Linked DNA regions of Homo sapiens. The protein of the gene in region 1 interacts with the protein of each later gene in a pairwise test. Each region holds a gene or a part of one and is shown on either strand. Other genes may lie near its edges.

Region 1 (3,818 bases):
CCATCTCTGGTAAAGTCACAACCTGCCATACACAACATGGGCTTCTCAGACATTCTGCCCACCACCATCCTGGACAATAGGAATAGATAACTGATATTCATTTATTGAATGAACTAAGTTAAAGCCATCATTCCCTGCCTACCTCATGTAGGTACCTGCCTACCTCAGAGGTGATATAACCCAGATTGCAAATGTCAATTAGAGTGGGCTCCACCAACCCCCAACATAACTGGCACACATATACCCATGAATGGGGACCACATCTGAATTCTCCTTTAGGAAATGACTTCTCTTGAATATGATTCATTTTGGTGAATTTAATCCACAGGCTCCACAGTTTTACAAGTAAAGAAGATAATTATACTCTAGTTGTTGACATGAACTGCTTGGATGTTCAGGGTTGTGGTGATGACGTGAACAACAGACTTCTTCACTCTGCAAGTTACCCAACAGCAAGCTGGGTGGATGAAGCCATGCCAACAGCATCTGGCAGGAGCCAGCACCAAGCACACCTTACACAGCTTCGACAGAGCTGCACGGAGAACACATATGCTTGGTCAGCTCAAATGGTGTCCTACTTTTCCTGCTGCATGATCCACAACAATCTGTGTTCTGTTGTTGTCTGTTTGTTTTTCTTGCTTGGTTTACAATTTCTTAAGGAACTTAACCTGGAAAACAAGCCCGGTCATGTGGGCCTCTGCCATGCCAGAACACTATAGGCAGCCGACTCTGGAGACAATTTAGCAGATGGATGAAGCTACAATTATTATTGGAAGCTTTTTAACTCCATTGACACTCACTGACTTTAAGTATCTGAAAGCACTTAATCCCTCAGAATTTGAAAGCAGATGGAAGTCAGTCCCTCCCGGAATCACCTCTCTCTCTCCCGGCTTCCTTCCCCTCCCTACTCCCTCTTCCCTCCCTCTAGCTCCCTCTGTCTCTCATACAAAGTACCTTATAGTGTGAGCTCCAGACACACAGACACTGCCATCCTGCCTACAAAGAAAGGAATGCAGACACAGCCAACGTCAGCATTCGGGGTGGGACCACAGTGGAACGCATACATCCTTTCACAGCTGCCAAGGCCTTCTGGGAAGTCCAATGCCTGCCCCCACATCTCTCAGAGCCAAACATCTTCTTCTGGTCAGGAAACCCTGTTCAGAGTGCACAGAGAGCCAGCTCCTCCCTTCTCTGCTGAAATCCTGGGCTCCTGAGGTCAAACAGAATGTTGTCCAAGCCACCTATTTTAGAGATGGGAAAACAGAGGCCCTGGGCAGGGCCCTGGACTTGTCCGGATCAATCAAAACTAGCATCCAAGTCTCCTGGCTGCGAGACAGTTGCTTCTTTTGTCTACTTCTGGCCAGAGTAGCCTCCTCAGTAGCCAAACATTTCCTCCATCCCCCCAGCGGGGATGTCACCTGTCAGAATGGGAAAAGGGTAGGGTTCCCACCTTACTCTGTTTCTCCCCTAAGCCCATCTCTCCCTGCTGGGAAGGCCCATGGTATTCTATCCCCGCCTCTCTCAGAGGGCGTGCAACTTTGTGTCCTAAGTTGATTATTTTCCTTTCACATTGGTTGGTAGTGGCAGTGAAGGACACAGACTCTAAAGCCAGGCTATCTGGTTCCAATCACCAGCTATGTGACTTGGACAAATAATGCTCTCTTCTGTGCTTCTGTTTTCTTCTCTGTAAGTACAGATAATAACTGCACCTACTCCATGTAGGGATCTCTGTGAGCATGCAGTGAGTTAATACACGTACATACGGTATTTAGAACAGCACTGGTCACATAGTAAGCACCGGCCGTGACCTACAAGAGGGCAGCCTAGGCCAGCATTTCCATCTGTCATCTTCAAGGCCAGCACTGATGACAAGGGAGGGCGACCATCTGGTGAGTCACCGTATCTCCAGCACATAGAGGGTGCTCGATAGGAACCGTCGAATGAATGAATCTGGCCGGGTGCACTGCGTATAGCAGGTGCTTCATCATGTCCACTGATACGTGGATTTCCATAATTCACAGGCTCACTTAGGGAATGTCACTTACCAAGTTTATTGGTGAATAAATTCAACTTTCCATCACCAATAGTTTCTGTTGCTCTAAGGCATTTATCTTCGCTGCTGTCTTTAAAAGGTTAACCAGAGCCCAGCTGTCAATGTCAAAAGCATTGCCTGTGCGACCACTTGGTACTTAATCACCTACTGCTTGACATTTTCTTGGTTTTATCCAGGCTTTGAAAAACAAAGTTCCCAAAACACTGCACTTGATATTCATCTCTGAGGGGCCAGTGAATAAAAATATCTTAATGAAGAAAGCCAGCAGAAAACAACAGAGCCTTGAAGTGGAAACCGGTTTCCTGGAACTCCACTCTGCGAGAGGGCTGAAGTGTTTATGCAGAGGAAAGTGCCACAGAAGTGGCCGATCTGGAAGCTGGAGGACATCTGGATATGGCATTTAGGACTGACACAGAAAGTGTCTGGGGCTTATCAAGTGAAAAGCACTCCACAAGAACAAAATATATTAGTCACCACCAAAGTGGGAGTTGAAACCGGGCCCACAGCAAATAAACACTCTGCTGATCGCTGGCCAAAATGCTTAGCTGAAGACGTTTATTAACCCCATTGAACATGTATACAGAGTCAGCAAGCATCTAGGACACAAACCTGTCACAGAGCTAAGTGGGAGAGTACCCAGGGATTTATGTGTGGTGACCCTGAGTGGCATTAAGAGGTTGAGAAGATGATAGAGCCATAACCCCTAAAGCATCTGCCCCAGACACTGCACCCCTTGGGCCAGGACTGCTCTCTTCCCTCACTAAGTGAGGTCCCATGTTAAGCAGAAGGCCTGCCCAACCAGCCGAGATACACCTGGCCTGCAACACATCTGGCACTGCAACCTCATGACCGCTTCACAGCAAGGAAGGAGAAACAGGGTCAGTGCAGATGCCTGGAAGCAGCCAGCATGCAGTGCTAAGGATGTGGGTCCCACACAGTGGAGGCTTTTCCTGTGACCTGAAAACACCCAATAAAGAATTTTGTTTTTACCAAACCCTGGGTCTCTCAAGTGCACACAAATGATGAATTCAGATTTTCAAAGGTGAACAGAGCTGGGAAGGCACCCTCTTTGGGATTTCTGGGCAACAGCTAGGCGGAGCAGAACAGACTAGCGTGAAAAACTGACAGCCCTTCCCATAGCCAGGGGGCCCTGACATTTGGTGCCTACAGATTCTGACCCCCTGACCTGTACATGCCCAACCTCCCTCCACTCTTCGGGGTCTTTTGTTCCTGTTTCTAAAGAGCCAGGAAGGACTGGACTCCACCCTAGTCCATCCACTGAAGCTCCTGATGAAGGATGCCGGGTGCCTAGGAGGCCCATATGCATTTACACTCATCTGTCCCAGAAAACTACAGAGCATGTGCCGTGGGCTGGGCAGGCCTGGTTCCAAATCCTGCCTCTGCCTTCTTTCACTTTGTTTTGAGCCTCAGTTCCCTCATCTGGAGATTGAAAACTAGACACTCCAGAATTGTTTCACACACTAAGACAAGGTTTATATAGCTTAAGAAGTAGAGATTGTTCATTATCTGAATAAATAGAAGTGACTAATGATCTTTTTCTTGTATATTATGAATGACAGGAAAAAGTCAGGAGGGGAAATTCCTCCAAAGCTTCCCTCCGCACTTCAGAATAAAATCCCAAATCCTTACCCAGCCCAGGAGGCCCTACTTGGCCTGAGTGTGTCTCATTATTTAGCTCTGTACCCTCCTGGGCTTGGGCCTTACCACACCAGCCACTCAACACACCCACATCCTTCCCATTCAC
Region 2 (3,818 bases), on another chromosome or scaffold:
TTATAGATGGAAGTCCAGAATTATATAGTCAATGGGGTAGCAGCAGAACCAGGCATTTTAATTGTACCATTGTGTCTCTTTATTACTCATTCTGCCTGCTAAGTATAGGTGTTTTCCAAGATTCTTCTCTTTCTCCTTTACCCTTTGCCGGGTTCAACCATTTTTATAACTTAAACAAAAATCATCTCTTCCCAAATGACTTGTAAATATTTACCATAATTTATCATAAATTAAGTTGCCTACCAGACATTTGTCTTCAGATATCAAATTCAGCATATCCAAAATAGTACAAAATATCTCCTCACCAAAATAAGATTATCCTGCTAACTTACTGCTTCTAGTATCACTTCCATATGTCTGCTTCCTCAAATATGACCCTTATTTGTTGTTTTCCTCTGGTCTGTCATTATAAGATCCTTTCCATTTTTCTTCAGTAATTTCTCTTGGGCCTTAGGTCCTTTACCAAGGATCTAATTAGAAAAAAAATTACATTGGAGGAACTCCTTTACTTAAAAAAACTGTTTTAAGGTGAAAGGCAGCATGGAGTGTTAAAAGAATGTTTAGCTAGGAGATGGAAGACTTGTTTCTAGATCTGGCTCTGCGATTGATTTGGGGCAAGTCCTTTTACTCACTGGGGCCTTACTTCCTTTATTTTAAAGTGAAGAGGTTGAATTAGTGGATTTTCTATTAAGTCTTCTGTATTATATGTATGTCCTTTCTTTCTCCCCCTGCCCACACCACTTCAATAGTGTCTGCAGGCTCTGGAGTTCTTGCATTCGAACCAGGTCATTCACAGAGACATCAAGAGTGACAATATTCTGTTGGGAATGGATGGCTCTGTCAAGCTAAGTAAGTAGGAGCCTTAGGAATGATAATACTTCTCTGCCTGTGGGGCCCTGTCTCCTGTGAGATGGTCATCATATAATAGTAACTACGACACTCACCAAAGGGTCTTTATGATTTCATGGGATATGAGGGCTGTTTTATATTTTCTGTATTAATCATAGGATATCATTTCATTATTTTTTCATTCATTTATACATTTAACAACAACCACAAAAAACTTTGCTGAATGGTTACTCTGTGCTAGGTCCTGTGATGGGCACTGAGAGTAAATTTTCCCTACCTTCTCAATCTAGTATGGAAAACGTGTAATAGATAATTAGAAAAAAGAGTTTTGTATAATTTCTTTCATTCAGTTATTCAGCAAACTTTTATTGAATGTCCAGTACATGCTGGTCCTTCTAGGGATATGAGGACAAGTAAGAGGACATAATCCATACTCTCAAAGGCTTCCTAATTTAAATAAATTTATAATTGCAATATAATGTAAAAACCATGGCAGGTAGAGCATTTTGTTCAAAGGTGTAAAGACCAGTAGACCAGACAAACAGGCTGTGTCATGGGTGGATGGGCAGTTTATGGAAGGACTGCTAGCAGCCCTGGGTCTGGGGCATAAAAACAGGGCCATGCCTAGTCATAGGTGATTGGGGTTTAAATCAAGGACTCGTGCCCAAGGAATAAGACAAGGACCTAGTCGCCAGATTTGGGATTATGGGAATGGTTTTTCAAGAACAAAGCAGAATTGGGATGAGCAATCAAGACCAAAATGGGCAGCTTGGACTTTAACACTAAGTCCCCTGGTTTGAGGAGAAGTAGGAGGCCAGAGATGGTGTTTCTTATATTCCTTCTATTTCTCTTCAGGGTTCAATAGGAAATAGGCTAGGAGCTAGACATGAAGGTGGTAGTCAAGTGACTTTGGAGAGACAAAGGATAGCAGAGCTGGAAGCCAGGCGGATCTTGTCACCTATGTGTAGGTACACAGTCAACACTTACTGAAGTGAGTGTATATCCTAAATGTATGTTCTTTCTCTTATTTTTCTTTTCTAGCTGACTTTGGATTCTGTGCACAGATAACCCCAGAGCAGAGCAAACGGAGCACCATGGTAGGAACCCCATACTGGATGGCACCAGAGGTTGTGACACGAAAGGCCTATGGGCCCAAGGTTGACATCTGGTCCCTGGGCATCATGGCCATCGAAATGATTGAAGGGGAGCCTCCATACCTCAATGAAAACCCTCTGAGAGTGAGTGTTACCAGTTCTATTTCAAGTTATTTGGGCTGTTGTCTCTAGTCCCAGGAAATAAGAATCCAGGGTGTTCTCTGTGGTTTTCAACCTGGAGATCCCTTTTCTGGATACAACTAGTCACTGTTGAACTTAAAGTATAAATGGCCAAAGAAAAGGAATATTAGAAGTCACTCATTCATTTATTCAACAATTATTTGAGTCCCTGTCAAGTGCAAGAAACTATTCTAATGAAAATAAAATAAATTAATATGTAGTAACAGATGGTAAATGCTGTGAGAAAAAGCAAAGTAAGGGAGTTAACAGAGTAATGGAGGAACAGGTGTGCTATTTTAGAGTAGAGAGGGAAGTTCTCTCTTATAAGTTATTTTATTCTGCAGAGTTGGGAAGTCATTAGAGGGTTTTGAGCTGAGGAGTAATGTGATCTGATTTATGTTTTAAACAGATCATTTTGGCCGCTTTTATGGAAAATAGACTGCGAGAGACTGTTGTAATAGTTCAGAGTGGTGGTGTCTTGGTAGGAGTGGAAGTGAGAAGTGGTCAGATTCAGGAAATTAAAGGACTAGCTGACAAGATGAACTGAATATTAGAGAAAGAGGAATCAGCAATGACTACAAGATTTCTGGTCTGAATTGCTGAAAAAATTCAGTTGCCATCTGTTGAAATGGTGAAGAGCATACTTAAGTTGGGTAATAAAGAGTTGGTTTTGAATGTGCTGATTTGAAGTGTTAATTGGACATTTAAGTGGAGCTGGAGTAGAGTTTGGCTTAAGAGTCTGGAGTTCAAGGGTGAGAAGTCAGGACTATAAACATAAATTTATTAGTAGATAATATATAGTTGGTATATATAGTAGGTAGATGAGATCACTCACCTAGGGAATGAGTACAGTTAAAGAAAAGAGATTTGAGTACTGAGCTCTAGGTTATTCCACTGTTTACAGGTTGGAAGAACTAGCAAAGTAGACCAAGGAGTGGCCTTTCTAGTGTGAGAGAACAGAGAAGTGTCTTGGAGGTGAAGTGTCCTGGAGATGAAGAGAACAGTGTGCTTCCCGAAGGAGGAGGAGGGTAGATTATGTGTCAAATGTGATTGATAGGTTAAGATGAGACTGAGAAATGAACATTGGATTTGCCAATGTAGAGGTTCTTAATGACCTTAATAATCAGTTATCAGTAGAGAGATGGGGATGAAAGTCTAATTAAATTCATGAAAGTGGAAGAAGAGGACATTGAGATGGCATGTATAAACAGGTTTTTTTTTCTCTTAAAGGAATTTTGCTGGGAAGGGTAACAAAAATGGAGCACTATCTTAAAATGGAGTCAAGGGAGGGTTTTTCTAAAAGATGATGTCTGTGTGCTAATGGGAATGATTTAGTGGAGAGGAGGAAAATGGTCATGTACAAGAAGGAAGTGACAACCATAGAAGTGATATCCTTAAGTCGATGAGAGGGGTTCGATCAAGTACTGAAGTAAAGGACATTAGATTAGCATGGACAATTTATCCCTTGTAACAGAGCATCTCAACACAGGTGCAAATAGGTTGGTAATCTTGGTGTGGGCAAATGTGAAATTTATTCTGATTGCTTTTATTTTCTCATTTATTCCCACCTCCCATCCAGTGCAGGAATTCCCTGTGCACTGTTGCTGGTAGGTGGTCATCTACATGCTCATGTCATCCTTGAATATCTCTGATTATTGGAAATTGCTTCAGTGCACCAAACTGAAACTACCTTCT

The links.
Region 2: the proteins of NOD1 (region 1) and PAK1 interact in binary tests that used the Homo sapiens proteins (3 or more experiments, as listed by UniProt).

The regions. Positions count from the first base shown.
Region 1 is NC_000007.14:30,468,499-30,472,316, forward strand, and holds part of NOD1 (nucleotide-binding oligomerization domain-containing protein 1), read right to left. Parts: intron 1-3,818. UniProt on the Homo sapiens protein: Pattern recognition receptor (PRR) that detects bacterial peptidoglycan fragments and other danger signals and thus participates in both innate and adaptive immune responses.
Region 2 is NC_000011.10:77,334,355-77,338,172, reverse strand, and holds part of PAK1 (serine/threonine-protein kinase PAK 1), read left to right. Parts: intron 1-749; coding exon 750-849; intron 850-1,890; coding exon 1,891-2,087; intron 2,088-3,818. UniProt on the Homo sapiens protein: Protein kinase involved in intracellular signaling pathways downstream of integrins and receptor-type kinases that plays an important role in cytoskeleton dynamics, in cell adhesion, migration, proliferation, apoptosis, mitosis, and in vesicle-mediated transport processes.